Homo sapiens: one gene and its partner. The protein of the gene in region 1 binds, or shares a complex with, the protein of each later gene. Each region holds a gene or a part of one and is shown on either strand. Other genes may lie near its edges. The genes, in order: AHSP and HBA2. A codon is read from its position in the direction of its gene.

Region 1 (3,626 bases):
TTCCTGGAGACTGCGCCGCGGGTCTAACACCTTCATTTCGTTTTTAAAAAGCTCTTGAGTCTGGCCCGTCCCTGGTTCCGCCCAGAGCCCTAAAATAGAGGCTTCGAGTCTGGAGGTCTGGGAGAAAGGGAGCTAGACCGGGAATTGATCTGAGAAGCTTGGGGTGGGGGGAAGGCGGATTCCTCTGCTTCCCAATCCTGGCATCTGCGCCCAGGGATGTTGGAGCCAAAGGGAAGTGGCTTCCCCTCCTGAAATATAAGGGGCGCGCTAAAGGGTTCCCAGGATCCCTTCCAACTCTAAATTCCTGCGATGCCTGGGGCTCCGGGGAGGTATTTTGCGGTAGTCAGAGTCCGAAGATCCTAGAATGTAGTTTGAGCTGGGGCTAAGGACAGGGGATTGAAAAGTCGAGGCGGTGGACCTGGCGCAGGATGAACAAGACTGGGAGACTTCCAACAGTTTCCTCCTCGACAAGCAGGTCACAGGACAATGTCTGGAGGACTTCTATCCCCCTTTCTTGTTTCTGCCACCCCCTCCCCTGCAGCTCTGCACTCTCTCTAGTCCCGCCTTCCTGGCCCTCGTTCAGCCTGTTTTAGTTTAGAATCGCTGCCCGGTGGTCACTCAAGGCTGCTAACCTCTGCTGTAAGGAATTAAGCTTCCAAGAGCATATCTAAGAAGGAGGGCGGAAGGAAAGGGACCGAGTGCCTCCACATGTCAGGACAGACCATGAAAGAGAAGCCAGGAAGTCCAACAAAACCAGCACTGGTCTTTATTGAGGTGTCAGGGTAGAGTGGCAGGAGCACAGCCTAAGGACATGAAGGTCAGAGTTTCTCAGAGAGGAGGGGCTGGGTCCCTGAGCTAGGAGGAGGGCGGTGGGTGACTCGGGAGCTCATGAGACTTCAGGAAGTCCCTGTACTTGGCCAGGAAAGGGTTGGCCAGAGTGTTCAGCTCTTGCCGAAGCTCCTGCAGAGCCTTGTCTCGCTCTTGGGGCTCCCCTGTCACCTGCTGCCTGTAATAGTTGATGTAGAAGTTCATCCAGTCCTCCACCACAGTCACCATGTCTTCTTCAGAGACGAGAGGATCATTGAAGACCTGGGGGGTTGCGGAGAGGCAGTTGGCAAGGGAGAATGTGGTCAGCAATGGGATTCGGGAATACTAGAATAGTGCCACAGCACCAACTCTCACATTCTCTTTCCTCTGCATTGTATCCCGTGTCTCTCGTTGTTTCCATCAACTCCACCATTACTTCACCAGCTCCAATTATCCTCTTCCTCCACTTCCCCGGCACCCCCCAGTCTCCAGGCCAGTCCTTTGAAATGGAAAGCTTGGACTCACCTGCTGATTCAGCAGAACGCTGAACTCCTTCAATCCTGCGGAAATGAGATCCTTATTGGCCTTAAGAAGAGCCATCTGCCTGGGTAGAGAAAAGGGTAGAATTTACATATCTGTTTCCCTCCTCACTGGGTATTTCCCCCAACCCACTTCCTCCCCTTAAAAATCCCTCCTGCCCTGCAGGGCTATCTCCTTTCCAAAACCTTTCACATCCTGCCCTGCTCTGAGGTCACGATTTTCCCAGGTTGGGCTCACCTTCAGGTCTAACAGGCTGTATATGTCTCACCCACACTCTTGAGGGTGCGTGAATCTCTCTGTGCCAAGCTATAGATGTAGGCAAGGAGTCAAGTGTCAGCCTAAGATAGAAACGCCCTGCATCTAGGTCCTGAAGGAGGGTGATAGGTCATTCTAGGGAGGAGAAGAAGGGAGAGGCTTCCCTGAAGGTAGAAAGATAACAAGGCCAAAAAAAAAAAAAAAAAAGATAAATGAGGAAACCCAGGAAATGCAAGAAGGCAAGAGCCAAACCAGGGGCATGTTCCTGCTTTTTGCCCCATATTTCAGTATCCAGGCTCGAAATGCTATGGAAATTGACGTTTACTGAGCCCTATTACATGACAGAGGCTTTTGTGTAATCACAACGATGTGATCGCAATGATTCTCCCAATTCGGAGATGATGTATTAATAGCAGCTTGCATTACATTTATTCATTTGTGCCAAGCACTGTTTCAAACATGTACAAAATATTTATCCTATAAAATTTCTTTTTAGACACATTTTGCAGATAAGCCACCTGTAAGCGTGTGGACTGAACTCCACCACGCTGTGCTCCATAAGAATGGAGATAAATAGCCGGGCGTGGTGGCGGGCACCTGTAGTCTCAGCTACTTGGGAGGCTGAGGCACGAAAATCGCTTGAACCCAGGAGGCAGAGGTTGCAGTGAGCCAAGATCACACCACAGCACTCCAGCCTGGGTGACAGGGCGAGACTCCATCTCAAAAGAAAAAAAAGAATGGAGATGGATTTGTCTTGTTTACTACCCTGTCAACAGGTACCCAATAAAGCAGAAATACTCTTTTTCCTCTTTTTAAATATTTTTCCAGATATTTTCCATTTTCAGTAGATGTTTCTCAAATTTCAAAATCACTATATACTAATTGAAATAATTAAAACAATACAAAAACGTACACTGAAAAACTGAATCATTTTTGCCCCCTCCAAAGTAACCAGCATTAAACATTGTATATTTCCTGTCACTTTTTTTTTCCATTCAAAACCCAACATTCATAGGTGCCTATACACTCATAAAGCTTTGTTGATTTGCCTTTTTGGTTGTAGCATTTTTTAATCAATATACAGCAAAACTGACTTCCTTTTGGTGTACAGTATATTAAATTTTTTTTTTTTGAGAGGGAGTCTCCCTCTGTGGCCCAGGCTGGAGTGCAGTGATGCGATCTCAGCTCACTGCAAACTTTACCTCCCAGGTTCAGGCGATTCTCCTGCCTCAGCCTCCCAAGTAGCTGGGATTACAGGCGTGCATCACCACGCCTAGCTAATTTTTGTATTTTAGTAGAGATGGGGTTTCACCATGTTGGCCAGGCTAGTCTCGAACTCCTGACCTCAAGTGATCGACCCACCTTGGCCTCCCAAAGTGCTGGGATTACAGGTGTGAGCTACCGCATCTGGCCTAGTTTATTAATTTTATAACAGATTTGTGTAACTACAAACGCAGTTAAGATACAGAATGTTTCTGTCACCCAAAAACCACTCCTTCACGTTACCCTTTTGTAGCCACCCCTACCCTCACCCATAACTTCTGGCAACCACTTATCTGTTCATCACTACAGTTAAGCCTTTTTCAGGATGTCATATAAATGGAATCATACAGTATGTAACCTTTGAGACTGACTTTTTTTGGTCAGCATGATGTTCTTGAGCTCCATCCAAGTTGTCACAAGTGTCAGTGGACACATTGCATTGTATGGATGCACTGTAGTTTGTTCATTCAGCCACGGAAGGACATCTGGATTGTTTGTACTTTGGGGCAAGTGTGAATAGAGTTGCTATAAACATTTGTGTACAGGTTTCCATGTGAACATGTTTTCATTTATATAGGGTGGAAAGTATGTGTTACCGGCCAGGCACGGTGGCTCCCATCTGTGATCCCAGCACTTTGGGAGGTCAAGGCAGGCAGATCACTTGAGGTCAGGAGTTCGAGACCATCCTGGCTAACATGGCGAAACCCCCTCTCTACTAAAAATACAAAAATTAGCCAGACATGGTGGCATGCACCTGTAAT
Region 2 (3,222 bases), about 31 Mb from region 1:
TATTTTTTTATTTTTATTATTATTATTTTTTTTTTTTTTTTTGTGACGGAGTCTCGCTCTGTCACCCAGGCTGGAGTGCAGTGGCACAATCTCGGCTCACTGCAAGCTCCACCTCGCAGGTTCACGCCATTCTCCTCCCTCAGCCTCCCGAGTAGCTGAGTAGCTGGGACTACAGGCGCCCCCCACTACGCCTGGCTAATTTTTTCTATTTTTAATAGAGACAGAGTTTCACTGCATTAGCGAGGATGGTCTCGATCTCCTGACCTCGCATCTGCCCGCCTCAGCCTCCCAATGTGCTGGGATTACAGGCGTGAGCCACCGCGCCCGGCCTTATGTATTTATTTTTTTGAGACAGAGTCTCGCTGTGTCGTCAGGCTAGAGTGCTGTGGCACGATCTCGGCTCACTGCAACCTCCAACTCCCTGGTTCAAAGGATTCTCCAGCCTCCACCTCCCGAGTAGCTGGGATTACAGGCGTGCACCACCACACCCAGCTAATTTTTGTATTTTTAGTAGAGACGGGGTTTCTCCATGTTGGTCAGCCTGGTCTCGAACTCCCGACCTCAGCTGATCCACCCGCCTTGGCCTCCCAAAGTGCTGGGATTACAGGCGTGAGCCACCGAGCCTGGCCAAACCATCACTTTTCATGAGCAGGGATGCACCCACTGGCACTCCTGCACCTCCCACCCTCCCCCTCGCCAAGTCCACCCCTTCCTTCCTCACCCCACATCCCCTCACCTACATTCTGCAACCACAGGGGCCTTCTCTCCCCTGTCCTTTCCCTACCCAGAGCCAAGTTTGTTTATCTGTTTACAACCAGTATTTACCTAGCAAGTCTTCCATCAGATAGCATTTGGAGAGCTGGGGGTGTCACAGTGAACCACGACCTCTAGGCCAGTGGGAGAGTCAGTCACACAAACTGTGAGTCCATGACTTGGGGCTTAGCCAGCACCCACCACCCCACGCGCCACCCCACAACCCCGGGTAGAGGAGTCTGAATCTGGAGCCGCCCCCAGCCCAGCCCCGTGCTTTTTGCGTCCTGGTGTTTGTTCCTTCCCGGTGCCTGTCACTCAAGCACACTAGTGACTATCGCCAGAGGGAAAGGGAGCTGCAGGAAGCGAGGCTGGAGAGCAGGAGGGGCTCTGCGCAGAAATTCTTTTGAGTTCCTATGGGCCAGGGCGTCCGGGTGCGCGCATTCCTCTCCGCCCCAGGATTGGGCGAAGCCCTCCGGCTCGCACTCGCTCGCCCGTGTGTTCCCCGATCCCGCTGGAGTCGATGCGCGTCCAGCGCGTGCCAGGCCGGGGCGGGGGTGCGGGCTGACTTTCTCCCTCGCTAGGGACGCTCCGGCGCCCGAAAGGAAAGGGTGGCGCTGCGCTCCGGGGTGCACGAGCCGACAGCGCCCGACCCCAACGGGCCGGCCCCGCCAGCGCCGCTACCGCCCTGCCCCCGGGCGAGCGGGATGGGCGGGAGTGGAGTGGCGGGTGGAGGGTGGAGACGTCCTGGCCCCCGCCCCGCGTGCACCCCCAGGGGAGGCCGAGCCCGCCGCCCGGCCCCGCGCAGGCCCCGCCCGGGACTCCCCTGCGGTCCAGGCCGCGCCCCGGGCTCCGCGCCAGCCAATGAGCGCCGCCCGGCCGGGCGTGCCCCCGCGCCCCAAGCATAAACCCTGGCGCGCTCGCGGGCCGGCACTCTTCTGGTCCCCACAGACTCAGAGAGAACCCACCATGGTGCTGTCTCCTGCCGACAAGACCAACGTCAAGGCCGCCTGGGGTAAGGTCGGCGCGCACGCTGGCGAGTATGGTGCGGAGGCCCTGGAGAGGTGAGGCTCCCTCCCCTGCTCCGACCCGGGCTCCTCGCCCGCCCGGACCCACAGGCCACCCTCAACCGTCCTGGCCCCGGACCCAAACCCCACCCCTCACTCTGCTTCTCCCCGCAGGATGTTCCTGTCCTTCCCCACCACCAAGACCTACTTCCCGCACTTCGACCTGAGCCACGGCTCTGCCCAGGTTAAGGGCCACGGCAAGAAGGTGGCCGACGCGCTGACCAACGCCGTGGCGCACGTGGACGACATGCCCAACGCGCTGTCCGCCCTGAGCGACCTGCACGCGCACAAGCTTCGGGTGGACCCGGTCAACTTCAAGGTGAGCGGCGGGCCGGGAGCGATCTGGGTCGAGGGGCGAGATGGCGCCTTCCTCTCAGGGCAGAGGATCACGCGGGTTGCGGGAGGTGTAGCGCAGGCGGCGGCTGCGGGCCTGGGCCGCACTGACCCTCTTCTCTGCACAGCTCCTAAGCCACTGCCTGCTGGTGACCCTGGCCGCCCACCTCCCCGCCGAGTTCACCCCTGCGGTGCACGCCTCCCTGGACAAGTTCCTGGCTTCTGTGAGCACCGTGCTGACCTCCAAATACCGTTAAGCTGGAGCCTCGGTAGCCGTTCCTCCTGCCCGCTGGGCCTCCCAACGGGCCCTCCTCCCCTCCTTGCACCGGCCCTTCCTGGTCTTTGAATAAAGTCTGAGTGGGCAGCAGCCTGTGTGTGCCTGGGTTCTCTCTATCCCGGAATGTGCCAACAATGGAGGTGTTTACCTGTCTCAGACCAAGGACCTCTCTGCAGCTGCATGGGGCTGGGGAGGGAGAACTGCAGGGAGTATGGGAGGGGAAGCTGAGGTGGGCCTGCTCAAGAGAAGGTGCTGAACCATCCCCTGTCCTGAGAGGTGCCAGGCCTGCAGGCAGTGGCTCAGAAGCTGGGGAGGAGAGAGGCATCCAGGGTTCTACTCAGGGAGTCCCAGCATCGCCACCCTCCTTTGAAATCTCCCTGGTTGAACCCAGTTAACATACGCTCTCCATCAAAACAAAACGAAACAAAACAAACTAGCAAAATAGGCTGTCCCCAGTGCAAGTGCAGGTGCCAGAACATTTCTCTCATTCCCACCCCTTCCTGCCAGAGGGTAGGTGGCTGGAGTGAGGGTGCTGGCCCTACTCACACTTCCTGTGTCACGGTGACCCTCTGAGAGCAGCCCAGTCAGTGGGGAAGGAGGAAGGGGCTGGGATGCTCACAGCCGGCAGCCCACACCTGGGGAGACTCTTCAGCAGAGCACCTTGCGGCCTTACTCCTGCACGTCTCCTGCAGTTTGTAAGGTGCATTCAGAACTCACTGTGTGCCCAGCCCTGAGCTCCCAGCTAATTGCCCCACCCAGGGCCTCTGGGACCTCCTGGTCTTCTGCTTCCTGTGC

The links.
Region 2: the proteins of AHSP (region 1) and HBA2 are in contact, whole or in part, in a crystal structure (PDB 1Z8U), measured with the Homo sapiens proteins. Residues at the interface, in NP_001305150.1 of Homo sapiens: Glu17, Leu21, Gln24, Gln25, Asp29, Leu31, Val32, Asp36, Thr39, Val40, Asp43, Trp44, Phe47, Tyr48, Tyr51, Tyr52; in NP_000508.1 of Homo sapiens: Ser36 (codon at 1,942), Phe37 (codon at 1,945), Thr39 (codon at 1,951), Pro96 (codon at 2,122), Val97 (codon at 2,125), Lys100 (codon at 2,134), His104 (codon at 2,288), Val108 (codon at 2,300), Ala111 (codon at 2,309), Pro115 (codon at 2,321), Phe118 (codon at 2,330), Thr119 (codon at 2,333), Pro120 (codon at 2,336), His123 (codon at 2,345), Ala124 (codon at 2,348), Asp127 (codon at 2,357), Lys128 (codon at 2,360).

The regions. Positions count from the first base shown.
Region 1 is NC_000016.10:31,525,921-31,529,546, reverse strand, and holds AHSP (alpha-hemoglobin-stabilizing protein), read right to left. Parts: upstream 1,648-3,626; 5' UTR 1,585-1,647; intron 1,571-1,584; exon of another isoform or gene 1,533-1,570; intron 1,412-1,532; 5' UTR 1,408-1,411; coding exon 1,333-1,407; intron 1,090-1,332; coding exon 856-1,089; 3' UTR 744-855; downstream 1-743. UniProt on the Homo sapiens protein: Acts as a chaperone to prevent the harmful aggregation of alpha-hemoglobin during normal erythroid cell development. Specifically protects free alpha-hemoglobin from precipitation.
Region 2 is NC_000016.10:171,194-174,415, forward strand, and holds HBA2 (hemoglobin subunit alpha), read left to right. Parts: upstream 1-1,682; 5' UTR 1,683-1,719; coding exon 1,720-1,814; intron 1,815-1,931; coding exon 1,932-2,136; intron 2,137-2,278; coding exon 2,279-2,407; 3' UTR 2,408-2,517; downstream 2,518-3,222. UniProt on the Homo sapiens protein: Involved in oxygen transport from the lung to the various peripheral tissues.